2 separate regions of the Homo sapiens genome follow, and region 1 is linked to region 2. The links come from fine-mapping of genetic effects on gene expression. A gene starts in region 2. The other region holds a variant in brackets. All regions are shown on one strand. Distances are from middle to middle.

Region 1 (15,543 bases), 34 kb after region 2:
AGATTTTGAGATGGGGAGATTAGCCTTGATTACTTGTGTGGGCCCAGTGTAATCACAGGGTTATTATGAGAGAAAGGCAGGAGGAACAAAGTGAGTACTAGGAGGTGTGACTACAGAAGCAAGAGGCTGGAATGAGGCAAAGAAAGAACCAAAGAATGCAGGAAGTTTCTAGAAGCTATGAAGGGGAAGGAAATGGATTCTCCTCTGAAGCATTCAGAAGGAATGGTATCTTTTTTTTTTTTTTTTGAGACAGAGTTTTGCTCTTGTTGCCCAGGCTGGAGTGCAGTGGCACGATCTTGGCTCTCTGCAACCTCCACCTCCTGGGTTCGAGTGATTCTCCTGCCTCAGCCTCCTGAGTTGCTGGGATTACAGATGCGTGCCACCATTCCTGGCTAATTTTTGTATTTTTGGTAGAGACGGGATTTTGTCATATTGGTCAGGCTGGTCTCGAACTCCTGACCTCAGGTGATCCACCTGCCTCGGCCTCCAAAGTGCTGGTATTACAGACATGAGCGACTGTACTCAGCCTACTATTTGAATTTTTGATTGTGTCTCAAAGTATGTTCAGTTTAGAGATTATCTCTATTTGTGCTTTTATATTCCATAAATGCACACATATGTATATGATAAATATAGATAAACAGGCTGCCCCTCTGTCTGGCCTGTGGACAGATGGGATAATTATTCAGGACTCCAATCCTACGAATTATTTCCTTTATAACTGGGTTTGATTCTAAATTTCCTTTGCATAGAACAATCAAATCAGTATCATATAATTGCAAGTATTGCACAATTACTAGAGATTTGAGCTTATTTTTCATTATTTTCACCATTAGTGGTTATTTACATTTAAAATACACATTGGATTCTCATGGTAACATTTTCTCTATACAGATCCACTTAAAAACTGGCCTTAGGAACTACATGAATGAAAAGAACTGGATACACAGTTTCTATTAAATTATTTTTTGGGGTCAGGTGCAGTAGCTCACCCCTATAATCCCAGCACTTCGGGAGGCTGAAGCAGAAGGATTGCTTGAGGCAAGAAGTTCAAGACCAGCCTAGGTAACATAGCTAGCCTCCCTCTCTACCAAAAAAATAAAAATTATAAAAGATTAAAAGAATAAATTCTTTTTTACATGGATTTTTTTTTTTTTTTTTTGGCAAAGTCTCACTCTGTCGCCCAGGCTGGAGTGCAGTGGCGCTATCTCTGCTCACTGCAACCTCCACTTCCTGGGGTGATTCTCCTGCCTCAGCCTCCCCAGTAGCTGGGATTACAGGTGCCCACCACCAGGCCCAGCTAATTTTTGTATTCTTAGTAGAGACGAGGTTTCACCATGTTGGCCAGGCTGGTCTTGAACTCCTAACCTCAAGTGATCCACTCGCCTTGGCCTCCCAAAGTGCTGGGATTACACGTGGCCACCGCACCCGGACTTGCATTGATTAAAAAAAAAAAATTCAGAGAGAAGTCTCCAAGGGTCATAATCAGAACACTACATAGAGGTACATGGGAAGTTGTTCTTATTTTGTGTGCTAATTTCAGAGGAAATATAAAGAAATTAGAGTGGTTATGTTAAGGGGTCAATTTCCTTACGAAGGTTCTCATACTGACTGATATACAAAAAGGACTGTAAACAACACATAAAATCAGAGGAAATTTTCTAACATGCGTATCTGGTCAATTCATTTTCCTGCTGAATATCCTTCAATGGCTCCCCATTATTTACAGAATAAAGTTAAAATTTCTCGGCATTGTGTTTGAGGTGTTTTTCACTGTGGGCTTAATCTCTCTGACATGATATCTAGCCCCTCTTCAAAAACACCCTGTGCTTTGGCCTTGGGAAATGATCCCTGCCCCACGTCACGCCCTTCCTCTGTCTGAGCAACACACACAGACTTATTTTTGCCATCCTTTACAATATCGCTCTCATGCCAGTACCTCCTCTCAGATGTCTTCCCGGGCTGCCTGCCCTTCTCCCTGGCTCAAACGCACAGCTTTCTCCTTTATGGGCCCGTGATACAGCCACTATAATTACTTGTTTACAAGCTGTCATCCCCAACAGACTGAACTGCTGCAGGGCCGTGACTTCCTTCTTTTCCTCTGAATGCCCTGCCTTTGGCAGATATGGGCAGTCTGAACCTGTCGGTCAGTTCTTCTCAGTTCTTTCTAGCTCTGAAAGTGTGAAAGTATGGATTCTGTATTTAAGGATTCATGTCTTTGAAGACCAGGGACAACTATTATTTGTATTACACTGCATGGATAATTTAAGAGACATATAAAGTTAATTTCGGTCTATACCTGAGCACACTTAAGTGCCTAACTCTTGCATAAGAAAGAATTCTGGCCAGGTGCGGTGGCTCATGCCTGTAATCTCAGCACTTTGGGAGGCCGAGGCGGGCAGATCACCTCGGCCAGGAGGTGATCAGGTCAGGAGTTTGAGACTAGCCAGGCCAGGTCAGGAGTTTGAGACTAGCCTGGCCAACATAGTGAAACCACATCTCTACTAAAAATACAAAAAGTAGCTGGGCATGGTGGTGGCAGGCAACTGTAGTCCCAGCTACTTGGGAGGCTGAGGCAGGAGAATCACTTGAACCCAGGAGGCGGAGGTTGCAGTGAGCCGAAATCACACCTCTGCACTTCAGCCTGGGCAACAGAGTGAGACCCACCCACCCCACCCCTCCAAAAAAAGTTAGAATTCCATTGTAATAATTTTATACCTGCTATATACACACTTTACAAAACTTTTCAGTGTAAGAATTATAACCCTACATCTCAATACAATTTACTTCTAAATGCGTTAGCTGAACTGGGTGTGGTGGTGCACGCCTGTAATCTCAGCTACTAGGGAGGCTGAGAGGGGAGGATTGCTTGAACCCAGGAGTTTGTGATCAACCTGGGCAGCATAGTGAGATACCCATCTTAAAAAAATATCATTAAGGAGCTTACTATCTTATAAAGAAAAGGAACAATAGCATAAGTGTATCTTTGTGTAACAACAGTATGTTGCTGGATTTGTTTTCAGAAGGGAGCTGTCGCTAGACAAAGCTACAGCTGTCATGGTTAAAAAATAAAACTGGGGACCAGGTGCAGTGGCTCATGTCTATAATCCTAGCACTTTGGGAAGATTCCTTGAGCCTAGGAGTTTGAGGCTAGCCTGGGCAACATAGTGAGACCCCATCTTTTTTTTTTTTTTTTGAGACGGAGTCTTGCTCTGTCACCAGGCTGGAGTGCACTGGTGCAATCTCAGCTCACTGCAACCTCCGACTCCCTGGTTTAAGCAATTCTCCTGCCTCATCCTCCTGAGGAGATGGGATTACAGGCACGTACCACCATGCCCAGCTAATTTTTGTATTTTTAGCAGAGACGGGATGTCACCCTGTTGACCAGGATGGTCTCGATCTCCTCACCTCAAGTGATCTGCCCACCTTGGCCTCCCAAAGTGCTGGAATTACAGGCGTGATGAGCCATCCCATCCGGCCGAGACCCCATCTTTAAAAAAAAATTAGCTGGGCGTAGTGGCGCATGCATGTAGTCCCCAGGTACTCCAGAGGCTGAGGTGGGAGGATCCTTTGAGCCCAGGACTTTGAGGCTGCAGTGGGCCATGATGGCACCTCTGCACTCCAGCCTGGGATACAGAGCAAGATCCTGAGTCAATAAATAAATAATAAATAAATAAATAAAACGGGTTAATGTCTAAATAAGATCATAATCTCAGGAAGAAACAAATTGAATTATCTGGCATTGATGTTGACAATGAAAACCATTTATACATTTAAACTGGTGTGGCATCCATTTATTATATTTAGTATTGCCTTTTAGAAACAGAACTGCTTGAACTGCACTTCTGTGAATCAAATAGATCTTATATTTCTTGGTATAGTTCACCCAAGACAATATTTTATAGAGCAACTGTCCTCAGGAAGAAAATACTCTTGTTTCAGTTATTCAATGGGATTTCATAATAAAGTTAAACCAGGATTGAAGGACTTAATCTGCTGCTGCAGACAATTTACAGTTTTACCATCAGCATTCATTTCTCTGTGACATAGCATAATTTAGAAAATTCAAGGAAAATGTTAGTAAATCATAACATCAAGCCTAAGCGGTCATTTGTAAACTTTTGTATGCCACTGGCAATTTATCATTTGACTTGCTACCCTCCCACCCAAGTTCATAATCCTCTTGACTCCCCAGTTAACATTAAATTTCCAATTCACACCTACCAAAGGAGAGTTTCTGTAAAATAATCCTTGGATTACTGGCATGGGAATCATTTGGGGCTCATGTGAAAGATGTAAGTTCCTGGGTCCTACCTCCAGCCCACTGAATCAGAAATCCTGATGGCGAGGACCTTCCCTGACATAGTTGATTAACCAAAAGGTTTTAGTTTTTTTTTTTTCCCCCTTATATAAACAGGCACGCAAGTAGGTAAACTAGGGTAGTAATGGCAGCTTAATGCTGCCATCTGAGACCAGAGATCCTCCTGGCTTTCTTACATGTTTTTATTCTCACGGTGTCAAAATGGCTGCTCCATCTCCAAGCACTGAGCTACATTATCGGAAGGAAACAGGGAAAGGAGTAAGGGAGAAAGTCAAAAGGCCTGGTGCTGAGTCGGCCATCTTTAATACACTTCCTTAGGGGTTCCACCCAGTGAATTACACTTGTTTTTCATTGGCCAGAGGTGGGTTACTGGTCACCAATAGCAAGGGAGTCTGGGGAGGTACTCTTTAACAGGGGACATTGACACCCACACTAATCAGAACTGTATATGCTGGCGCGGTGGCTCACCGCTGTAATCCCAGCACTTTGGGAGGCCGAGGCCGGCGGATCACTTGAGGTCAGGAGTTCGAGACCAGTCTGGCCAACATAGTGAAACCCTGTCTCTACTAAAAATATAAAAAATAGCCGGGTGGTTGCGCACACCTTTAGTCCCAGCTGCTCCGGAGGCTGAGTCAGGAGAATCGCTTGAATCCGGGAGGCGGAGGTTGCAGTGAGTCGAGATCATGCCACTGCATTGCAGCCTGGGCGATAGAGCGAGACTCTGTCTCAAAACCAACCAACCAACCAACAAACAAACAAACTGTATTAATAAGAAAGCAGGGAAGAATGGATTTTTAGTAGGCAATTAATGTCTGCCACACACATCTTTTTCTTTTTAATAACTTTTTAAAATAAGTAGAGCAGTCTGGTGCTTTAACTTTGTTATTTTTTATAGTATTTAAATTATATTATAATGTTATTAATTACATTTTGGATGTTTAAGAATGTTTTTGCATCTTTTAGTATGGCTTTGTTTGAAAACCAAAATATTCTTGAAGAACTGTCTTCACTTTTATAATGGTTACCAGTGGCAAAATTAAATTTGGTATATTAAATTTTGCTTTGTATCTGGAATAAAAAACTATCAGACAAGAGTACAGCTAGCTATTCTGAATCATATGTCTTATCACTGATTGCTAGTACAAAATCAACTATATTCTGATACAAAATCTTCTGGTTCCATGTCTTAACAAAAAATTATGGTCATAATAAGGGGATTCATATTTTCAACTGTGTCTCTATGCAAATATTTTTCCCCTCTTTCTTTACCGCAGCAACACTTTTCAAGTTTTAAGAAAGTCCTTAAAACTGAGAGTTTCATATTTGATGGTTAAAAAAATTTATATGTTATCTAATATGATGTCCAACATATGTAAATACTTAAAAGAATTATATTTTAAAAAGGGAAAGATAAAGAAACTCAAATGGAATGAAAATTTTAAAATAACTTATAACTGCATCAGAAACACAAAATACCATGGGATATATCTCATGGAGGATGTATAAGACCTCTACACTGAAAAGTACAAAACATTGCTGAGAAATTAAAGCAAGATATGTCCCTAGCATAGGAAACTGCCCTGTGTACCCAAGGACATCCTACATATCAGTGCTTTATGTCTGTGGCTGGGATGCATCTTTGAAGCTTATGAATGTTGGCAGACACCCATCATCCATTAGGCACAGGTGTCTGCTATCAAATCCAGGCCATATTGTCATATTTCCTATTTATCTTTTGTGTTTATTATAAATTACCTAATGCCAAATTTCTCATTCTGATGCTGAATACTTGTCAAACCATTAGATGTTTACTGACTATAGAATGGAATCAATTCTTTTTTTTTTTGAGACGGAGTCTCTCTCTGTCACCCAGGCTGGAGTGCAGTGGTGGGTTCAAGCAACTCTAATGCCTCAGCCTCCTGAGTAGCTGGGATTACAGGCATGCACCACCATGCCTGGCCAATATTTGTATTTTTTTTTTAGTAGAGAAGGTGTTTCGCTATGTTGGCCAACCTGGTCTCTAACTCCTGGCCTCAGGTGATCTGCCTGCCTTGGCCTCCCAAAGTGCTAGGATTACAGGCATGAGCCACCATGCCTGGCCCAGAAATCAATTCTTTCCTCACTGTGTAAACCCATGATAGCTTTCCTCCATTGGCTAGTGCCTCTTCTGTGATGCTTCTCTACTCAGGTACCTTAGCTTGGATTCTCAAGGCCCAAACCCCCTCAGGCTCCACCTGTCCAGCCTTACTTCTCACTACTCTCCAACACAGCAGCATAGAGTAGTGGAAAATCTTAAGTCTGGGAATCAAGAATGCTGGAATGCTGAGTGTATTCCTGAATGTGCCACTTTTTATGTGGATGTGCCTTTGTGCAAATCATCTTCCCCGTCACACAGGAGTTTGAACTCCCTGAATTTTTTTTTTTTTTTTTTGAGACGGTCTCTCTCTGTTGCCCAGGCTGGAGTGCAGTGACACGATCTCAGCTCACTGCAACCTCTGGTTCCCAGGTTCAGGTGATTCTCCCACCTCAGCCTCCCAAGTAGCTGGGATTACAGGCATGAGCCACCCCACTTGACTAATTTTTGTATTTTTAGTAGAGACGGGGTTTCACCATGTTGGTCAGGGTGGTCTCAAACCCCTGACCTCAGGTGATCCTCCCACCTTGGCCTCCCAAAATGCTGGGATTACAGATGTGAGCCATCGTGCACAGCCAACTCCCTGAATTTTAATCCACTGCTTGCAGCATTTATCTACACATTCATTTGACTGCATCTTTGCTTCAAAAAAAATTGCCCCTTTTTTTGTGCATCAATCATTAATTAACCATTAATAAATGATGCAAAACGATTAATTTGATTTTAATGTATTATTGTTTATTATAAATAATATAATTATAATATACAATATAACACATTATATTTATTAATTATAATAATAAATATAATTATTTATTATTGCTTATTATAACCGTAATATATCATTTTTAAATTTTATTTTTCTCCTCATAGTGCCTGCCATGAACATAATATACATGCTTATTGAGCCCTTAATTGTACATTGAGATAAATACTGTGAGATATGGCAAGATCTATAAAATAGCACTTACCTTTAGTCAACCTATAGTTTTATGCGCTTATCCCCAAATTTTTTTTTTTTTTTTAGATGGAGTCTTGCTCTGTCGCCCAGGCTAGAGTGCAGTGGCGTGATCTGCAACCTCCGCCTTCTGGATTCAAGCAGTTCTCCTGCCTCAGCCTCCCAACTAACTGGGACTACAGGCGCAGGCCACCATGCCCAGCTAATTTTTTGTATTTTAGTAGAGACAGGGTTTCACCGTGTTGCCCAGGCTGGTCGTGAACTCCTGATCTCAGGCAATCCGCCCGCCTCGGCCTCCCAAAGTGCTGGGATTATAGGCGTGAGCCACTGTGCCCGGCCTTTTTAAAGTTTTTTTTGAGATGGAGTCTCGCTTTGTCACCCAGGCTGGAGTGCAGTGGCGCAATCTCACTCAGCTCATTGCAACCTCAGCCTCCCAGGTTCAAGCAATTCTCCTGCCTCAGCCTCACTAGTAGCTGGGATTACAGGCACGCACCACCACGAGGGCTATTTTTTTTTTTTTTGAGATGGAGTCTTGCTCTGTTGCCAGGGCAGTGCTGCGATCTCGGCTCACTGCAACCTCCACCTCC[C/T]GGGTTCAAGCGATTCTCCTGCCTCAGCCTCCCGAGTAGCTGGGACTACAGGCGTGCACCACCATGCCCAGCTAATTTTTGTATTTTTAGTAGATAGGAGGTTTCACTATGTTGGCCAGGATGGTCTCCATCTCTTGACCTCGTGATCCGCCTGTCTCGGCCTCGCAAAGTGCTGGGATTACAGGCGTGAGCCACCGCGCCAGGCCTAATTTTTGTATTTTTAGTAGAGATGGGGTTTCACTATGTTGGCCAGGCTGGTCTCAAACTCCTGACCTCATGTGATCCACCCACCTCGGCCTTCCAAAGTGCTGGGATTACAAGCATGAGCCACTACGCCCAGCCTGAAAGCTCGAAGATTCTAATCATGGCTTGGTCTTTCTGGTAAGCAGCCCCCATCCAGGGGCCCACCAAGAGCCACCTCATTAGAACGGAAGATGCTCCAATCACCCAAGAAACTCAAAAGTATTTAGGAGTTCAGTGTCAGGAACCACAGTCAAAAACAATATATTAGAACAAAAGATGCAGCTAGCACCTCTATTGCTCAGCAAATTACAAGGGTTGTAGGAGCTCTGTGTCAGGGACTTGGGGCAGAGAACAAATACGTATTTCTTACTATATCACAACATCACACCTTCAATTCCATTTGAGCTCGCCTTTCTTCTTCTACTCCCTCTCACAATGTTACCATGAGGAATTCTCTCCAGCTTGTTTGCCATTCTCTCCCGCTTTCCCTCCCCAGACAGCAGTCCTGCTCATGGCTCCTATGCACTTTGGCTCCCGCTTAGCTGAGCAGCTGGTTGGTGAACTGTGTGGGGCCACTAATTGTTACCCACAGGCCCTGATTGGGGGAGGACCCTGAGGTAATGATCCTCACACTATCCCCCTCACCAAGTAATTATGGGGGGCAAATGAAACCCTATCTTTTGGGCTCTTAACTTGAGTCACAGAATGCTTTGGAATGACCCTCTGCAGAGTAATGGATATACAATCTGGACTTTGCCTAAAATTTCAGGGCAGTCACTCTTGAAATCCAGAACTTCTTTCTGTCTGGTGGATAAATCCACTACACATCCCATAGACTCTGCGTCATAAATACCTGATGTACAAGAGATAGACACTTTATAAATCATCAACACTGACTTTGGCAGAGCCTATTACCAATATTATTTCCTGGGAGCCAGAGGAATACAAACCAAAAGTCTCCTGGTCCCTTTTCTGCCACTGGAGTGTGACTCACGGCAACTCCCTATGCTTTCTGTCTCTCTCTTTTCCCCCAATTCAGTCTCACCATCCTGTTTGGGGATTTACATAGTGGTTGTGAACCAAAGATTCACTTTGGAGGGAAACCTGGCCTAGTGATGATCCTTAGGCATCTTGTTATATATTAAAATATATGGGCCTGGTATGGTGGCTCACACCTAGTTCCCAGCACCTAGGGAGCCAACACACGAGGATCGCTTGAGCCCAGGAGGTTGAGGCTGCTGTGAGCCGTGTTCATGCCACTGCACTCCAGCCTGGGCAACAGAGCTAGACCCTGTCTCTTAAAAAAATGAGTCAACAAATTTAAATATTGTAATTATGCTCAAAAGGAAGTAGCAATTTGGTTGCTTTATTTATTTTGGGATCACTTCAAGTTTATGGACTAAGTTAGAAACATAATGCATTGCATATTTACTATGTCATATACTTATAAGTGTATATTGGCCAGGTGTGATGGCTCATGCCTATAATCCAGCACTTTGGGAGGCCAAGGCAGGTGGATCACTTGAGGTCAGGAGTTCGAGACCAGCCTGGGCAACATGGGAAAACCCCGTCTCTACTAAAAATACAAAAATTAGCTGGGCATGGTGGTGCACGCCTGTAGTCCTAGCTACTCGGGAGGCCGAGGCAGGAGAATCGCTTGAACCCGGGAGGTGGAGGTTTCAATGAGCCAAGATTGTGCCACTACATTCCAGCCTGGGTGACAGAGTAAGACCCTGTCTCAAAAAAAAAAAAAAAAAAAAATATATATATATATATATATATATAGAGAGAGAGAGAGAGAGAGAGAGAGAGAGAGAGAGTAATATGTTACATATTACAAATATATTTTTATTACCATTTTCATTTATATAATTACTTATGTAAAAGTTATGCATTTGTATAGAAATACACATATGCATACATTTCTATAGAAAACTATGTTAAGGGAAACCATTGTAAAAAAAAAACCCATTTGCAATTTTCGTATCTTCCTTATAAATCCTTGAAGAGAAGCCACTAAATTTAATACATCTCAGATAACTGTGATTCATAAATGGTAGGGGATGAAAAATATATGGCTGCTGCTCTCAAGGAATTTACAGAAAAGTAGGCATTTCATAAATACTTGGTGATTTATAATGCACTGATCTTTGGAGCCTGGATAACCTGGCTACTTAATATGTCACGCCTCGCTGATATCAAATAGACACCCAAAGGTAATGATTTCAAAGGTTATTCTAATTAACAAGGGACTACTTCAGACTCTGGCAGAATATGGTTCATTAAGTACAATTTAATCATTAAGGCAATAATATTAATTATGCATGCTTTCTGAGAAAACACCTTATCTCTTTATTCTTATTAATAACCATCTCAATTTTATAAATTACATTCAAACTTATGTACTGAAAGTTATGCAAAGGCAAGGGACCATTGTTTTAGATAGAAACAATAAATTATTTACCCAAAGCTATTCAGAAAACACTAGTCAAAACTGAAACTAGGCTTCCAAACACCCTGTCAGTATTTAAATATGTCAAGGTCAAAGTCAGATTAAGCAACTGGTCTTAGATATTTTTAGCAGTAGCTACAATTAAGATTTAATAACAGTACACAGGTCTGGAAAATGTCATAATGTCATACACCAATTATTATCTTGAAATTCATTAAGAACTCCATAATCATAAGAGTTTTGGGAGACAGGCAATGGAAAGAATATCTTGTTAGGTACCTACTATGAGCCTGGTGCTCTATGGTTCATTATGAAAATCATCTCAGTGAATTCTCGTAACAACCTTGTGATGCACATTTTTAATCTTCATTTCATCCACGAGGAAACAGAGGGGAAGAAATTTGCTCTGGTTCATTGTGCTAGTAAATGGAAGAGCTGCACAAGTTTAAATCCATAAAATAAAATGCAGAGAAGTACAAAGACAGTTGTATTTAATAACTGTAAAATGTATTAGAATGTAAATAAATAGTACCTATCTAAGTATTTTCCTGCTTATTGATGAAGGTCAGTATTTTTTTTTTATTATACTTTAAGTTCTAGGGTAGATGTGCACAACATGCAGGTTTGTTAGATATCTATACATGTGCCATGTTGGTGTGCTGCACCCATTAACTCGTCATTCACATTAGGTATATCTCCTAATGCTATCCCTCCCCACTCCCCCCACCCCACAACAGGCCCCAGTGTGTGATGTTCCCCTTTCTGTGTCCAAGTGTTCTCATTGTTCAATTCCCACCTATGAGTGAGAACAGGCGGTGTTTGGTTTTTTGTCCCTGCGATAGTTTGCTGAGAATGATGGTTTCCAGCTTCATCCATGTCCCTACAAAGGACATGAACTCATCCTTTTTTATGGCTGCACAGAATTCCATGGTGTATATGTGCCACATTTTCTTAATCCAGTCTATCATTGATGGACATTCGGGTTGGTTCCAAGTCTTTGCTATTGTGAATAGTGCTGCAGTAAACATACATGTGCATGTGTCTTTATAGTAGCATGACTTATAATCCTTTGGGTATATACCCAGTAATGAGATGGCTGGGTCAAATGGTATTTCTAGTTCTACATCCTTGAGGAATCACCACACTGTCTTCCACAATGGTTGAACTAGTTTACACTCCCACCAACAGTGTAAAAGTGTTCCTATTTCTCCACATCCTCTCCAGCACCTGTTGTTTCCTGACTTTTTAATGATCGCCATTCTAACTGGTGTGAGATGGTATCTCATTGTGGTTTTGATTTGCATTTCTCTGATGGCCCGTGATGATGAGCATTTTTTCATGTGTCTTTTGGCTGCATAAATGTCTTCTTTTGAGAAGTGTCTGTTCATATCCTTCACCCACTTGTTGATGGGGTTGTGTGTTTTTTTCTTGTAAATTTGTTTGAGTTCTTTGTAGATTCTGGATATTAGTCCTTTGTCAGATGAGTAGATTGCAAAAATTTTCTTCCATTCTGTAGGGTGCCTGTTCACTCTGATGGTAGTTTCTTTTGCTGTGCAGAAGCTCTTTAGCTTAATTAGATCCCATTTGTCAATTTTGGCTTTTGTTGCCATTGCTTTTGGTGTTTTAGACATGAAGTCCTTGCCCATGCCTATGTACTGAATGGTAATGCCTAGGTTTTCTTCTAGGGTTTTTATGGTTTTAGGTCTAACATTTAAGTCTTTAATCTATCTTGAATTAATTTTTGTATAAGGTGTAAGGAAGGGATCCAGTTTCAGCTTTCTACATATGGCTAGCCAGTTTTCCCAGCACCATTTGTTTTTGTTTTTTTTTGTTTTGTTTTGTTTGTTTGTTTGTTTGTTTTTTGAGACGGAGTCTCACTCTGTCGCCCAGGCTGGAGTGCAGTGGAGCGATCTCGGCTCACTGCAAGCTCTGCCTTCTGGGTTCACACCGTTCTCCTGCCTCAGCCTCCAGAGTAACTGGGACTACAGTCACCCGCCACCACGCCCGGCTAATTTTTTGTATTTTTAGTAGAGACGGGGTTTCACTGTGTTAGCCAGGATGGTCTCGATCTCCTGACCTCGTGATCCGCCCACCTTGGCCTCCCAAAGTGCTGGGATTACAGGCGTGAGCCACCACCCCTGGCCTACCATTTGTTAAATAGGGAATCCTTTCCCCATTTCTTGTTTTTGTCAGGTTTGTCAAAGATCAGATGGTTGTAGATGTGTGGTATTATTTCTGAGGGCTCTGTTCTGTTCCATTGGTCTATATCTCTGTTTTGGTAACGGTACCATGCTGTTTTGGTTACTGTAGCCTTGTAGTATAGTTTGAAGTCAGGTAGCGTGATGCCTCCAGCTTTGTTCTTTTGGCTTAAGATTGACTTGGCAATGCGAGCTCTTTTTTGATTCCATATGAACTTTAAAGTAGTTTTTTCCAATTCTGTGAAGAAAGTCATTGGTAGCTTGATGGGGATGGCATTGAATCTATAAATTACCTTGGGCAGTATGGCCATTTTCACAATATTGATTCTTCCTATCCATGAGCATGGGATGTTCTTCCATTTGTTTGTATCCTCTTTTATTTTGTTGAGCAGTGGTTTGTAGTTCTCCTTGACAAGGTCCTTCACATCCCTTGTAAGTTGGATTCCTAGGTATTTTATTCTCTTTCTAGCAATTGTGAGTGGGAGTTCACTCATGATTTGGCTCTCTGTTTGTCTGTTACTGGTGTATAAGAATGCTTGTGATTTTTGCACATTGATTTTGTATCTTGAGACTTTGCTGAAGTTACTTATCAGCTTAAGGAGATTTTGGGCTGAGACAATGGGGTTTTCTAGATATACAATCATGTCATCTGCAAACAGGAACAATTTGACTTCCTCTTTTCCTAATTGAATACCCTTTATTTCTTTCTCCTGCCTGATTGCCCTTGCCAGAACTTCCAACACTATGTTGAATAGGAGTGGTGAGAGAGGGCATCCCTGTCTTGTGCCAGTTTTCAAAGGGAATGCTTTCAGTTTTTTGCCCATTCAGTATGATATCGGCTGTGGATTTGTCATAAATAGCTCTTATTATTTTGAGATACGTCCCATCAATGCCTAATGTATTGAGAGTTTTTAGCAGGAAGCGCTGTTGAATTTTGTCAAAGGCCTTTTCTGCATCTATTGAGATACTCATGTATTTTGAATACATGGTGAATATCATGACTTTATTTATTTATTTATTTATTTATTTATTTATTTATTTATTTTTGAGACAGAGTCTTGCTCAGTCACCAAGACTGCAGTGGTGTAATCTTGACTCACTGCAAACTCTGCCTCCTGGGTTCAAGTGATTCTCCTGTCTCAGCCTCCCAAGTAGCTGGGATTATAGCTGTGCACCAGCACACTCGGCTAATTTTTGGAATACCATGACTTTTATGTGATGTAATCGCTGGCCCCAATCCATTCACTTTAGTGATTGTTCTTAAAGCTGATGCCGCTATAACAAGATTTTTTTTGGGGGGGTGGGCGGGGAAGCTAATGTGACTTCTACTTTTCATCTTTCCAAAAATCTTTTCATATTTGGGGACCTACCTATCTTGATTATGCAAAAAAAGATGCAAATAGAACAGCTGTACTTGATTCTGGGGCTGAAATCAGTAAATATTTATTGAGAATCTACTTTGGTGCCAGGCACTAGGCTAGGTACTGGGGGTGCTATGGGGTATTGGACAGTCAGACAAGGTCCAAGACTACTTGGGGTTGAGAGTTTGGGAAAGGCCTCTCTCAGGAGGTAACATCTGTGCTGAATTTGAATGATGAAGAGGAGCCAGTGATGCAAAGATCTGGGCTCAGAATAACCCAGGTAGTGGGAATAATACATGCTCCATTCTGATGCAGCAACACGCCTGGCATGTTATAAAAACAGAGAGAGGCAGAGGTTGAGATCAGGTAGTGAAGTAAGCAGGGGCTAGATTATGCTGATTGTATAATCAGCATAGGAAGTCTAAGTTTCTTTTAAGAACAAATAGAAGCATTGGGAATTTTTTTTTTTTTTTTTTTTTTTTTTTTTTTTTTGAGACAGAGTCTCACTCTGTCACCCAGGCTGGGTGCAGTGGTGTGATCTCGGCTCACTGCCAGCTCTGCCTCCCAGGTTCACGCCATTCTCCTGCCTCAGCCTCCCGAGTAGCTGGGACTACAGGAGCCTGCCACCAAGCCTGGCTAATTTTTTGTATTTTTAGTAGAGATGGGGTTTCACTGTGTTAGCCAGGATGGTCTCAATCTCCTGACCTCGTGATCTGCCCGCCTTGGCCTCTCAAAGTGCTGGGATTACAGGCGTGAGCCACCGCGCCCAGCCGGGAATTTTTAAGCACAGGAATACATGCTCATGTTTATAAACTTTTACAGTATCTTGGATCACAGGTCTTCAGAACTTAAAGGGAGTTTAGAGATTGCCCAGCTAAAATTTTACTTAAGAGTGAAGAAAAACTAAATCTCACAGGAATTCCATGATGTGGCCAAGGTGACACAAATAGTGCAAGCAGAGTGAGGATGTGTCCCAGTTCTGGCTCCAGAACCAATGTTCTTTCTATTTCAGTACTTGACCTTGCCATCTTAAGCTAGTACTTTTGTGGAAGAATTTAAAGCATTCTTTAAGTCTCTTTGAAAAACTGTTCCTAAGCCACAAGATAATCTATTAACGTGAACGCTGTAGTCAGCAAGCTTTAAAGACAGCACAAAGTCCTTGCTAATGTCCTGAGAAAAGTCAATACTTAGTTGGAGTGTCAATTACACTAGTGTCCCATGAATCCAATTACTTCTCAGTAACTTCAGACACCATCTATGCCAAATAGCCAACATATAATCCTGGAATC
Region 2 (15,543 bases):
CTTCCTGTAGGAAGTGTTTCCAAGTTCTTTGCTTTTTTTTTTTTAACAGCTTTATTGAGATATAATTCACATACTATAAAATTCACCCTTTTAGTATATATGTTGCTGAAGCAAGTAGGGAAATTCACCCTTTAAAAATATACAATTAAATGGCTGGTTCATATATTATAGAGTTGTGCAATCATCACCACCATCTATTTTCAGAACATTTTCATCTTCCCACAAAATCAACCCAGTACCTATTAGCAGTCATTCTCCATTCTCCACTCCCCCCAGCACCTGGGAACTTACTTTCTGTTTCTATAGATTTGCCTATTCTGGCCATTTCATATAAATGGGACCATACAATAAATGACCTTTTGCAACTGGATTCTTTCACTCAGCATAATGTTTTCAAGGTTCATCCAGAAACCATGTATCAGTACTGCATTCCTTTTTACAGATTCCATTGTATATATATGACATTTTGTTTAACCACTCATCAGTTGATGGACTTTGGGTTGTTTCCACATTTTGTCTATGAATAATGCTGCTACAAATATTCACGCACAAGCCTTTGTGTGGACATATGTTTGCATTCTCTTGGGTATATATACCTCTATCACATATGTCTTATTTATTTGGTTAATTCACTGCTGGGTAATATGCTAACCCTATGTTCAACACTTTAAGGAACTGCCACAACTGTTTCCCAAGTGAACAGGGTTGGATCTTTATTTTAAACATTTTAAATGCTTGTAATCATTTTAAATAATAGTTGAGTTTGAAAATGACTACTTTTACAGCTTGTGCAATATAAAGTGGCTGTACCCTGAGGCTGTTCAGAGTGATATATATTGGATTTTGTCACATGTATGCCCAGGGTAGGAGAAAATGAAATTTAAATTCTATTTGTTTCTTACTATTTTTAATTTCTGTTCGTGTATGGTTTTTCTGTTTTTGAGACAGAGTCTTGCTCTGTTGCCCAGGCTGGAGTGCAGTGGCACAATCTCGGCTTACTGCAACCTCCACTTCCTGAGTTCAAGAGATTCTCCTGCCTCAGCCTCCCAAGTAGCTGGAATTATAGAAGCCCACCACCACACCTGGCTTATTTTTGTATTTCTAGTAGAGACAGGGTTTTGCCATGTTGGACAGGCTAGTCTCAAACTCCTGACCTCAGGTGATCCACCTGCCACAGCCTCCCAAAGTGCTGGGATCACAGGCATAAGCCACCGCACCTGGCCTATTTGTGTATTTCAAAGGCACATATTGTACTCATATATTACTGCACTCATATAATTTTTTAAATTACAAAGTTAATAAAGCAGCTCAAGTTTGAGGGAGTTTTTAAAAATTACTATTTTTTAAAAATCACAATATCTCTATCAGGTGGCTGCATTGACTGGCAACTAATACTGAAGCTTGCATGGGAAGCCTTTAGAGCTTATACAAATTGCTGGACTGAGATGACAAGGACCCCATGAGCCTCCCGAACCCTTCAGTCTTTTTTCATTGGTTCCATAAGATGCCTCTTCCCAACCAGGGCAATCCAGCAAGTCCTCAAAGAAAACTAAAATGTAAATGAACATGCTTAAGTAGAGAAAAAGCTTAAGGGAGGCTTCTGTTCTTCCATCCACACATTAACTCCTGCTCATTCTTTAACACTCCCTTAGGCATCCCTGCTCCTACCTTCCTAGTCACCCTGTTCAATCCTCAACCCACATCCTCAAATGAGGGTGGCTGCCTCTCCTATGTGTGCCCATAAAAACCCTTATTTCTATCTAAGCACTCAGTAAACAGCACTGACATTGTTTTCTCTGTATCTGTGTCACCAGATAGTGATCCCATTGTGGGCAGGACTCAGTTTTATTCATCTCTATGTCACTGGCTCCAAGCACAGCGCTTAATGGAGAGAGTACACAGTATCTCCTAATTAATCAGTGAATGGCTTTTCAAAATAATGACATTCTGCCTCAAGTAGGCCAGACATACAGCAACCCCTCACAGCCAAATTGGAAAGTGGTGGTTCATCATATACAAAGACTGACTGATAGAATGAAGTGTGAAAGGAAAATAAAATGTCAGACCCCAGGCCGGGCGCAGTGGCTCACACCTGTAATCCTAGCACTTTGGGAGGCTGAGGTGGGTGGATCACCTGAGGTCGGGAGTTCGAGACCAGCCTGACTATGGAGAAACCCTGTCTCTACTAAAAATACAAAAATTAGCCGGGCGTGGTGGCACATGCCTACAATCCCAGCTAATCGGGAGGCTGAGGCAGGAGAATCGCTTGAACCTGGGAGGCGGAGGTTGTGGTGAGCTGAGATCGTGCCATTGCACTCCAGCCTGGGCAACAAGAGCGAAACTCCATCTCAAACAAACAAACAAACAAACAAACAAGTCAGACCCCAAACTTACTATGCCAAAGGGAAAAGTGAAGCCTGGAAACTCAGTCATGCAAAAAAACTGCCTTTCCTTTTGCCTAAACACAGCCGCAAGATAGAAGATTCCATATCTCCTCAGTTGGCCTCCCTTACCTTGACAATGTAAACAGCTTATCTTCACAGATACAGCACAAAGTCAAGACTAGAAACCATCCCTCTGCCCACCTCAGACATATGCATATTTACTGAGTCCTGACAAATGCTTAATTGACTGTTCCTCTACCCCACTTCACATGTAACATGTGGATTCAGTGAGCACTAATCAAAGCCTCACAAGAATGTGACCACTTAACTCACTACCTACACTCCTTTTTGTTTTTTTCCTCTACCCCTACTCCTCCTACCCTCACTTTCCCCTTTAAATACTGAAGCCCTCAAAATCCTCTTTGGAAAAATGTGTGGGCCACAGATCCTACTGTGACTTGTGTCTTTTTCCCATGTGTGTCCTCAACCTTGGCAAAATAAGCCTCTAAACTGATTGAGACCTGTCTCAGATACTTTTTATTTTACAAAAGTATTCACCACTCAGTGAGTCACGATGATGACAGCTTAACATATATTCATTTAAACCTAAGAACTACCCTACAGGATATGTACAATTGTTAACCCTAATGTACAGATAAGGAAACTAAATCTTGAGAGATTCATAACTTGCCTGAGGTCACCCAGAAAGTAGAGGAGTCAGGAGTTGAATGAGTGGAATCTAAATTCTAAGAGGCATTTGGGAGGCCGAGGCGGGTGGATCCCTTGATGTCAGGAGTTCAAGACCAGCCTGGCCAACATGGTGAAACCCTCTCTACCAAAAATACAAAAATTAGCCGGGCATGGTGGCAGATGCCTGTAATCCCAGCTACTCAGGAGGCTGAGACAGGAGAATTGCTTGAACCTGGGAGGCGGAGGTTGCAGTGAGCTGAGATCGCTCCACTGCACTCCAGCCTGGGCGACAGAGCGAGACTCCATCTCCAAAAAATAAAAACAAATAAATTATATGAAGGCAGAGCCATGTCAGTCTTACATCACTGCACACACAGGGCCCATATATATATGTATATATTTATTTATTTATATATTTATATATGAATATATATATTATATATGAATATATATATTATATATGAATATATATTATATATGAATATATATATATTATATATGATATATATATTATATGAATATATATATAATATATATATGAGAGAGGGAGAGTGCAAGCATGCAGGAGTCCAACAACTGTTGGTCGAATGAGTTCAACTGGCCACACCTGACATCAGCTGTCTATCCAGAGCTTGTGGCAAAAAGGCAAATCCTCAGTCCCCAGACTGACTCTCTGGCTCCTCTTCCTCATTGTTTCTCCTTGTTCCCTTCCCATATTGGCTCAACCTCCAGGTTGGTATCTTTATAGTTTGAGGACAGCAAGCCATGGACACACAAGTGAGGAAAAACCCACTATGTAAAAGAGGAGATGACTGGCTGGGCATGGTGGCTCATGCCTGTAATCTCAGCACTTTGGGAGGATGAGGCGGGCAGATCACAAGGTCAGGAGATTGAGACAATCCTGGCTAATTCGGTGAAACCCGTCTCTACTAAAAATACAAAAAATTAGCCAGGCGTGGTGACACACACCTGTAGTCCCAGCTACTTGGGAGGCTCAGGCAGGAGAATCGCTTGAACCCAGGAGGCAGAGGTTTCAGTGAGCCGAGATTGTGCCACTGCACTCCAGCCTGGGTGACAGAGTGAGACTCTATCTCAAACAAAAAAAAAAAAAAAAAGGAGGAGATGATTAAGGTAACACAGGAAGACCGCTCTGTGAGATGGGAATGGAAATAAGCAGGCTGTTTGTTTTTGTGGTGGGATCACATGCTGGCTAACATCTCCCTAGGGGATTACTGTGTACAAGACACAGTGCTTTTTTAATCCTTACAACAACCCCCATCTTCAACACATCTCTCACTGCTTCCTCTGTTCCAAACTTATCTAATAACAACATACCATTTTCTGAGGATTCAAACTTTTGCATCTGTTATTCTCTTCTACTAGTGCCTGTTTCTACCCGCAACCTACCCATCAAAATCTTACCCAGTTTTCATGAGCCAATTCAAACACTACCTCTGAAGACTTCACTATTCAGTTCTGAGAACTCCTTTCCCACCTTTTCATTCCTACAACGTGCTATCACTCACATGGCACTCATCTTACTGCATTCCAAGTCTTTCTTTGAGTACTTGTGTTATTTCTGCTGCTAGATTGTGGGTTTCTCAGAGACAGGAACTCTATCTAATGGATCGTTATGTTTCCTGTGGCTTTTGTATATAATAGGCACTTAATATTTGTTGGATAACACAAACAGCACCAACCTGTCCTTACTGCTACTGTTGCAAGAGAAGGATGAGTAGCCATGCCCAAATCCAGCCAGCCAAATGTCAGGTACAATCATACAAGGCCACACTTTTCTATATTTCCTTCACCTAGCAAACCAGCCTAGATAGCTTCAAAATACACCAGAACAAAGCTCTGAGTGGTAATCAACAATTAGTCATCTTGGGTCATGCGTGGTGGCTAACACCTGTAATCCCAGCACTTTGGGAGGTCGAGGTGGGCAGATCACTTGAGGTCAGGAGTTCCAAAACAGCTTGGCCAACATGGTGAAACCCCATCTCTACTAAAAATACAAAAATTACCTGGGCATGGTGCTGCACACCTGTAATCCCAGCTACTTGAGAGTCTGAGGCTTGAGAATCGCTTGAGCCTGGGAGGCAGAGGTTGCAGTGAGCCAAGATGGTGCCACTGCACTCCAGCCTGGGTGACAGAGCAAGACTCTGTCTCAAAAAAACAAAAAAGCAAACAAACAAAACAACAAACAATTATTCACTCCAGTGGCAAACCATCTTTTATGGCAGACAGCCATAAAATAAGGTGAGGCTGGAAATGCTCTGCAGAATATCTCACATTCCCTATAGCTTCTTAGGTTGTCCCTCCTGTTCTCAGCCACGGTAGGAAGATGAAGAGGGAGTATGAGGCCTATACGAATCTAAGATTTTAATAGGAACTTTAAACTAATAAGTATTAATTGGCAGCTATTGCACAAGCTTGAGGCTAGAAATCTAGATTCCCTATGATTTAGAACAGTGATTCGTCCTCAGCAGATGAGCTTTAAAAAAAAAAATAGACTGGTGATTCTTAACCATATTTCTACCACAACAAACCAAATTTATAAGACAACCCCTCACAATCATTTAGGAATGCCACAGTAAGGGAATGGAAATACACTAAAATAATTTTTGTTCCCTTCTCTCTCTAATTTAGTCAGTCATAATAACAAAGCAGCTTCATGTTAAGGACTTAATTCTGATTCCATTGCTTGGTCTGTCAATTTTATTTATCATATCAATCTACCTCCCATTACCACCATCCGAGTCCAAGTTACCATCACCTCAGACCTGGACAACCACAGAAGCCTCCTCACTGGTCTCTCTGTTTCCATCTTGGCCCTCCTTCAGTCAATTTTCTATATGGTAGCCAGAGCAATTTGGAAAAAGCACTGTGTCTTTCACTCTAAAATAACCGATGTCCTGTGTATAGTTGCTTAATAGTCACGTGAGACAGTTCAAAGAAACTCTCATTTTGCAAATAACGAAACCCGAGGCCAAAACATACTGAAACTTCAATTCCAGAACTGAGGTCAGAATTTGGAATTCATAATTGCACAGATGAGCCTCATTTCAATGGGCCATGCTGCTTCTCCCAAACAGGTATTTCATTTTCTGTTATCAATGAAAGACAAATGAAATAATTTGAATTGATCTAGAGCCTGCTTTCAGGGCTATAAAATATGAAAAAAACTGATCACCAGGGGACAAAAGGGATGACAACCTGGACTGAACTGATACATTTAAGGGCCACTCGCACGTGGATCCCATGTGTCCCAGGATCTACCTCCTCTAGCCAACTGAAGGACAGGGGCAGCATTCCAGATCCAGGACTATGTGATCCACATGGGGAGCATAGGATTTCACTGGTTGGATGTGCAGAATTTGTGTCTTCCATGGTTTCCCATGCACCTGCTGAAGAAGAGTGGCGATTCGAGTTTCTGCAGATTCTGCCCACCTTTGCCACTCTGGCTTGGTGGCTGGTGACAGCATTTTTCCCCTAGAATCCCTGGTAGCTCCATTTTTCCATTGGTTGGTGGTAATTTGCTGAGGATACAGCCAATGCTCTTTCTCTACTTTGCTGACTCCAAGAGCCTGAAGATTCTTCCCTGGGAAAGATTCCACATTTTGGTGGATATGCAAAATGCCTCCAGCATCCTGCCTTAACACTTGGCAGGCAATGGGCCAGCCTTCTTCAGAGCTGGGAATCAGCCCCAGGATCACCCTATCTGCAATATTTGAGAGCTTCAGTTTTCTGTTATCTCCAAAGTGTATTTGGCACCGATCTGCTACTCCATTGATCTCAAGGTTATTTCTCAGAGCAACTACAGCATGGGGATTCCACTCACAAGCATGGACGAAGGCAGCACCAGCATGAACTAGGAAAGGCAATGTAAAATAACCAATCCCTGCATAGAGATCCACCAGCACTTCTCCAGCACAGGACAACGATGCCACTCGAAGCTTCTCAGTGATGTTTCCAAAGGAGAACATACACTGGGTCACGTCAAACTTATAACGGATACCATTATCCACATGCTCTACCCAGCCATGGTCACCCAGCAGCAGTGTCACTGCTGGAGTTCGAGTACCATCCGGTGATACCCGCCCTCGTTTTGCCAAACGCTGGACGCCAAGTGCCAAGGCAACGGTCTCCCAGAGTTCCGGTCCCAGATTTTTCCACTGCTTGGCTTGGAAACAGTCTTCACTCAGCAACAAGAGATTACCATGCCGTTGCCATGATCGGGGCAAATCAGCCTCCAACTCGGCTGACCACTTGACTCCCCGACCCTCCACCCAGCGACTCACCTCAAGACACAATTTTTGGGCAGGTGAACAACCCTGGGCCCTCTTCGAAGGAACAGGATCCGGGAGCTGCGTGAGCATACAGGGACTGCCTGGGGCAACACGATTCCTCAGCTCCTGCAGGTGCTGCTCTGGAAGCGTCTCTCCCAGCACCGGTAGCGCCACCGAGCCATCCGGCATCTTTTCCACACGGTGCTGTGTATCAAAGAGTTTCTGCCTCTGGAGATATTCTCTGTATCGCTGGGTAAACCAAGGCTCAGTCACAACTGCGACAACAGCCACGGGCTTCCCACTTTCTCTCTCCATGTTGCTAACAACCACATTCTCTCTCATCACCTCAGCGATACTCCATCTCCTCAGAGTCGGCTCACCAGGCTGACTAAATTCCCGGTCTTAAATAAGGTAGCCTGCAGCTCACCCGGCCATGCCGGTGCCGGAAATGACGTGCAAAGAGGCCGGAACTAAATATATTGATGCGCTTGCTTGAGAATGGCGTTGCCGTTGCTGTGGAGAAGCTGCGGCCGCCATCTTTTTTATGGTCAACCATTACTTTTTTTTCAGCCTAGGAAGACATTTATAACAGGGAATCTTATGGACTAAAAGACTTCAAATTGCTATTTTCCAGAAACCTCATGCACTCTCTTCAGTGCTGCTCATGAATTCAAAGAGAAAAATTAACATGAAATTGTCAGAGGCGCATGAACCAGAGCAACTCCATCTTAAATAGGAGCTGGGTAAAATGAGGCTGAAACCTACTGGGCTGCATTCCTAGACGGTTAAGGCACTCTAAGTCGCCAGATGAGATAGGAAGTCAGCATAAAATACAGGTCAAAAAGACCTTGCTGATAAAACAGGTTGCAGTGAAGGAGCGGCCAAAATCCACCAAAACTAAAATGGCCACGAGAGTGACCTCTGGTGGTGCTCACTGCTACACTCCCACCAGCGCCATGACAGTTTACAAATGCCATGGCAACGTCAGGAAGTTACCCTATATGGTCTAAAAAGGGGAGGCATGAATAATCCACCCCTCGTTTAGCATATCATCTGGAAATAACCATAAAAATGGGCAACCAGCAGCCCTCATGGCTGCTCTGTCTATGGAATAGCCATTCTTTTATTCCTTTACTTTCTTAATAAACTTGCTTTCACTTTGCACTGCGGACTTGCCCTGAATTCTTTCTTGCATGAGATCCAAGAACCCCATGTTGTAGTCTGCATTGGGACCCCTTTCCTGTAACAAAATGATGATCTGAATTTGGAGAAAGCTTTCCCATAGCCTAATGCTGCTCTCAGGTTAGCATCAGCAGCCACCTTATTTTCTGAAAGTGAAGAGTCAGATACAGCTCCCTTTTTCCCTTTTCATGCAGATATAGTCATCACTGTTTCATTGTCCTTTGGTCCAAGAAACAACTATTTGAAAGTCAGAAGGATCTGAGTTCCAGTAAATCGTATCACCCCTCAAAATTGGAATCTTCACTTATAAAATGGAATCTAATCTTCAGAAGATTGCTATAGTGAGTAGAGACATTATAGTGTCTTAGACAATAACTAGTAAAGAGTAGATACTTAAAAAGATACAAAGTAACAAGTTGGCTAGCTCACAGGTACTAAATACCTGTTGAAATGCTTTGATATTCCTAAAGAAGACAAAGGGGAATTCCATATAGACTAAATCAAATAGTTGGATATAAGAACTGTAAAGAAACCCTATCACTTCTACTTCACTCCCGCTGTCAGAGGAGTCCAAACCAGAGTGACTCCATCTTGAATAAAGGCTGAATAAAGCAAAACCTGCTGGGTTACATTCCCAGAAAGTTAAGTACTCTCCATAATAAGACTGAGGCAGGAAAATAGGGTCTGGAGGCAGGGAACCTAAGGCTGATTCACACTGACTTCGTAGAACTAAATCAAAAGGAAAAAACCAACTATCTATGCCTAAGTAACAGAAGGACCAGAGGTTACTCCCTTTGCAAACCTGCTTTTCTGCAGGGCAGAAGGAAAATTGAAAGTACCTCTGATTGGTTGCAGAAAGCCACCAATCAATCCAAATACCCACTAGAGGTTTCCCATTGGCCACTTGGTGTGCACTCCATGCAAATGAAATAATGGCCTCAATCAGACGTTTGCATAGGAGTGCAACTTTGTAACTTTACTTCAGCCTCTGATTGCAGGCCACTACTTCATTTGCATGGGGTGAACACCAAGTGACCAGTAAGAAACCTCTAGTGGGTATTTGGACCCCAGAAGATTCTGTAACCCAGCTGTTGAGCCCCTAGACAGGGGCTGCTCCCATCCTGGGGAGTGTACTTTCATTTTCAATAAATCTGATTTTGTTGCTTCATTCTTTCCTTGGTTTGTACATTTTGTCCAATTCTTTGTTCAAGATGTCACGAACCTGGACACCCTCTACCCATAACAAGACCTTTTGGCTGAACGAGCTAATGATTCTTACTCACTAAACAAGACCCAGAACTTAAGAAGATGTCCTGATATCTTGAGAACAGAAAGCATTATTAGTTTAAGAATAGGTTTCTCTTTAAAGATAATAGTATTTTCATAAATGTTTGCTGAAATCAATAGTTACACAGAGAATAACACTACTAATACTCTGTCACAAGTGGATCACAAGCTGTTGTACTAAAGCACATGAGACCATTATTCTTAGCTAGCTACATAATTTTTGGTGTGGGGTCCTCCTCTCGCCTTCTGAGAACACCCTACTCTGTAATAGAGTAGTCTTTAATAAACTTGCTTCTTTCACTGTGCTCTGTGACTGGCCCTAAATTCTTTCCTGTCTGAGATCCAAGAACCTGTTTTTTGGGTCTGGAACAAAATTCCTTTTAAGTAACATTTCCTGTGGCAACTCCCAAGGACTTTATTGAGGTGAGACCTTCAACCCAAAAGAAATAGACTGCGCAGGACCAACTGACTGACTTTGGGTAAGAAGGGGAATACATTTTTATACCGATGAAGGACAAGGACACTTATCTAAGATTGGGTTTGAGGCCTACTTGGGAGGATTAAAGGCCCCTCACAGCTGAAAATGGGTTTAGCACAATGGGATGTTAACCATTATTCACTGTGGATTCGTCCTCCTTGTGCTCTCTGTAAGAGCTTTCCAAAGGCTGCCACTTGCCAGTTTCCTGATTGCTTTCTATGCTTTACTGCTACTTTATGAGAGAGATCTTGTTGAACTGGTCCTGAGGTTTTTAACTTTCCTTTTTCTTGTTTGCCTTTGGGTTATGGGCCATTTGCCTGTTGTTCTGGCATGTTGCTAGAAGACATTGGGGACAAATGGCTCTGTAATATTTACTTTCCCTAGATCTAGACCACTTAAATGAATTGTTTATTGTCTCTCCTTTTTTGCAAAGCTTACTTGGAATTTCGCATTTACAAGTTTTAAATGAAAAGGTCCAATGTGAAAGATTAAGCCTGGCAGCAATTATACCAGTCCCCCCTAGGTGAACTGCTCCAGGATGGAAAACTGGAGATTGCTTTTCAGCAGTTCTTTTTCATCTCCTTGCTAATGGAATGACTTTTACTTTTTGGTTACAAATGGCAAGGCCATGTAAATCTTGTCCTGCTTGCCGCTACTGGCCTGAACTTGGACATTCCTTTCTAGAACTTTGTCATTTCCCTTCTCTAGTGAAACATTTCTTTTGCTGAGTCCCCTATTGTGGTCTTTACTTTTGATTACCTAATAATCTTTTGGTTTCTGTGTTAACTTGGACAATTCTTCCCCGTGGGTTTAGGGACAGGCTTTACTTTCTTCCTTTATGTGGCTGAGAAACAAGGGACAGCCCTAAATGTTCTTGTCTAGAAACAGGGATACATCCCTTGACCCATGGCATATTTTTCTAACCAATTGACCATGTGGCTTCAGGATGACTCAGATGTTTCAGGGCAGTTGCAACAACTGCTCTTCTCATAGATGAAGACAATAAATTAACTTTGGGACAACATCTGGAGGTTTTGACCCCACACCAAATAACAGAGGCCCTAGAAGCTAAAGGGCACCAATAGATGAGTAGGGGATAGTTATTAAATTATCAGGCTTTATTGCTAGATACTCTTGATATAACTCTTAAAGTATAACAGAAGACCTTAATCCTAGCTACGTATCTACTTGGATCCAAAGGCACCCTAGATCATTCATGTACACAAGCTATGGAACAAATTTATTCCAGCTGGCAGGATTTAAAAGACGGGCCACTAGGGCTGGGTGTGGTGGCTCACACCTGTAATCCCAGTACTTTGGGAGGCTGAGGCAGGCGGATTACTTGAGGTCAGGAGTTCCAGAACAGCCTGGCCAACATGGTGAAACCCCATTTGTACTAAAAATACAAAAATTACCTGGGCGTGGTGGTGCACACCTGTAGTCCCAATTACTCAGGAGGCTGAGGGAGGAGAATCACTTGAACCCAGGAGGCAGAGCTTGCAGTAAGCCAAGGTCATGCCACTGCACTCCAGGCTAGAGACAGAGCGAGACTCTGTCTCAAAAAAGGATAATAATTTTAAAAAAGAATTAACATGTACACAAACTCCAAGTATGGCTTTCTGGTGCTTCATGCTCATGCTGCTATTTGGAAATAATGGGGACTCTTTAACTTCTAAGGGCTCCCCTATAGAACATTATTTGGGAATTTTAAATCTACTAGATGCTTCCTTGCTGCCTAAGGAAGTTGCTGTGATTCACTGCAAGGGACATCAAAAAGAAAACTCCAAAATATGCCAGGCACTGTGGCTCACACCTGTAATCCCAGCACTTTGAGGGGCTAAGGCGGGCGGATCATGAGGTCAGGAGTTCGAGACCAGGCTTGCCAACAGGGTGAAACCCCATCTCTACTAAAAATACAAAAATTAGTTGGGCGTGGTGGCTCGTGCCTGTAATCCCAGCTACCTGGGAGGCTAAGGCAGGAGAATTGCTTGAACCTGGGCAGCAGAGGTTGCAGTGAGCCTGAGATCGTGCCATTGCACTCCAGCCTGGGCAACTTGAGCAAGGCTCTGACTCAAAAAAAAAAAAAAAAAGAAAAAAAAGAAAAGAAAAGAAAGAAAGAAAACTCCAAAATAATAAAAGGGCATTCTTTTGCAGATGCTACAGCTGAGGCAGCTTCATTTGAGGGAACCAGTTAATCTGGTAGGCATGTTGGTGCCCACTGCCTTGGTGACGATAAAACTAGAGCATGGTTAATACTAGAAAAGAACAAAAATGGGCTAAGACCCATGGGTTAACTATAAGCACTTCCAGATGGCTAATTGATGAAAATGACAGATGATATGTACCAAGAGCTGATCAATGGAAAATAGTTAAGTATTGGCATGGCTCTACTCATTTGGGAAGAGATTTCTCATTTCAATTAATATGGCTCATCTGTTTATAGGGAAAGACTTTCTTTTTTTTTTTGAGACGGAGTCTCGCTCTGTCACCCAGGCTGGAGTGCAGTGGTGTGATCTCAGCTCACTGCAACCTCTGCCTCCTGGGTTCAAGCAATTCTCTGCCTCAGCCTCCCGAGTAGCTGGGATTGCAGGCATCTGCCACCATGCCCAGCTAATTTTTGTATTTTTAGTAAAGACAGGGTTTCACCATGTTGGCCAGGCTGGTCTTGAACTCCTGACCTCGTGATCCACCCACCTCAGCCTCCCAAAGTGCTGGGATTACAGGCGTGAGCCACCGTGCCTGGCCGAAAAGACTTTCTTAGAACAGTAAAACAAGTGACTTGGGCCTGTGAATTGTGTGCCCAAAAAAACCTCAAACAACCAAACTTTACCTCCTCCATTAGTAAAGCCTGTTCAGCATAGGGGGTCGTACCCAGAAGAAGATTGGCAAACACACTATACCCAAATGCCCCCATGTAAAGGATTCCAATATTTATCAGTGTTGGTTGATACCTTTCTTTACATGTTGGATTGAAGCTTTTCCTATCTGGCCTGAAAAGTCAATCAAGGTTTCTAAATTTTCATTCAAGGATATGATTCCCAGATTCAGGTTGCCTAAAAGCTTGTAGAGTGATAATGGCCCATCTTTACAGCAACAATAACCAAGACATAGCATCCGCTCTAGGAATTCAATATGGTCTTCATTCCGCATGGAGGCCACAGTCTTCAGGAAAAGTAGAAAGGACCAATCAAATTTTAGACAGGACCCTTGCTAAGCTCTGACAGGAAACATCAGAAACCTGGCTCCGTCTATCGCCTGTGGCCTCGCTGCAAGTTTGGGCTGCCCCAGTGGAAGGCTCAGCCCTTTTGAAATAATGTACGGAAAGCCTTTCTGAAAGAATTGCTGATTTCCTAGTAGATGGAGATACTTTCAAATTACAGAATTATGTTGCCAACTTAGGTCAGGTGCAAAAAGCTCTTCTTGAATACAGAAATGAGAGACTTCCTTCCCTCACTAAGGAAAAAAATCCTATTGTAATCCAGCCAGGAAATGGGATCCTGTTAATGACTTGAAAAAATGGTCCCTAGCAGATCAACTTTCCCACAGTGGAAAGGACCCTACTAAGTAAGTACTCCTTAGTGCCTCAACCGCAGTTACACTTCAAGGAAGAAGCAGCTGGGCTCATTGATCTTGAATTAAGTCTGTTTCTTATGAAGTCCCACAGGCTGCTGGAACACAAGAGACTGATTCCACTTATTCCTGTGAACCAACCAGTGATATCTGGCTCCTGCTTAGAAGAAACAAGAAAGATAAATAACATAAAAATCTGGATTAATATCCCAATTCTGGACACATATTGGTATTAGCTAAGAGGCAATCTCTTTGCTGGCTGGGCACAAACTTCAGCCTCCCTACACAACAAAATGGATTGCCGGGTGTGTGGAGAACTACAGCTCTCCTCCACCGTGGTGCTGCCATGATACATCCTGCCAGCCAATATGAGTTTATGGGATCATCATTATGATTGGAGTGAATATCCATCACGTTTTCCCATGTACTATAAAAACAAAGGGTCCAGCCCTTTCATTTCTCACAATGAAACAAGGAAGCGTCTTTTTTGTTTAATGAAGAAACAGCTAAATTCCACCCTGCCCTGTTATGCTGTGCATGATGGACTTGGGTGGATGACAGCTGTCCAAGTGCAGGTATCAAGCATAGTGTCCCTATGCTTTGAAAGACATAGTAACAGTTATGAAGAGACTGAGACCTGTAATATGGGAAGGTTACCACCCCAACAATGTAATCACACCCTTGTAAGTGACCAAATGTGCATGGAATGGCAGAATAAGTCCTAGCCACTGGTTGCTTGTCTTTCTCCTTGGGGCTGGCTATGGGCATGTGGGTCTCATGGCTGGCTGTATTTATCTTGTAATTGGATTGGAAGATGTACATGGGGTCATCCTTATCTCCCAGGACATATCCTCACTAAATTAGACTCTCTCCCGTCTAACTGGAAAGTTGGGAAATCTCGCCACAGGTGACCAAAGAGGTCTCTTTTTTTTTCTTTCTTTCTTTTTTCCAGGACGGAGTTTCGCTCTTACATCCAGGCTGGAGTAAAGTGGCATGATCTCCGCTCACTGCATCCTCCGCCCCCTGGGTTCAAGCAATTCTCCTGCCTCAGCCTCCAGAGTAGCTGGGATTACAGGCACCTGCCACCACGCCCAGCTAATTTTTTTGTATTTTTAGTAGAGATGGGGTTTTGCCATGTTGGCCGGGCTGGTCTCAAATGCCTGACCTCAGATGATCCACCCACCTTGGCCTCCCAAAGTGCTAGGATTATGGACGTGAGCCACCGCGCCTGACCCTACTTGGTGGTTTTTCTCGAGGGCTATATTACTGTCAGAGGTGGCTGTAATGGATGTCAAGTGGCAAGTTGAATCTGTATTCCAACATACAGCTACAGCTTTCAATACTACACAGCATGCCATTATCCTACTAACTGAAGAGACTTCTCAAATTAGACAGGTAGCCTTACGAAACTGCATGGCTTTGGACATTTTAACAGCGGCTCAAGGGAGATCTTGTGCTATCATCAAAATGGAATGTTGTTTGTATATTCCATAATATTAACATAATATTACTCAGGCCATGAAGGACTTAGACACCCATATCTCTGCCATTAACACACTGTCAGTTGACCCCATATCAGGGTGGTTCCAGCAATTGTCTGGTTCATGGAAAACCTTTTTGTTCAGATGCTTGGAACAGATTCTGTTTTGTTGCTGTGGAATGT

The links.
Region 1: its variant is fine-mapped to the expression of TYW2 in whole blood (INTERVAL, PIP above 0.99).

What each region holds. Positions count from the first base shown.
Region 1 is chr8:124,409,015-124,424,557 of GRCh38, reverse strand. No RefSeq gene overlaps it. Among named protein-coding and RNA genes, the nearest start is that of TYW2, 34 kb to the left of the region's middle. The variant C/T (reference allele first, on the strand shown) is at 8,001.
Region 2 is chr8:124,443,090-124,458,632 of GRCh38, reverse strand. TYW2 (tRNA wybutosine-synthesizing protein 2) reads right to left here and starts at 7,813. Exons shown (of 1, transcript NM_017956.4): 1 at 5,607-7,813. The coding sequence starts at 7,705. The coding sequence ends at 6,359.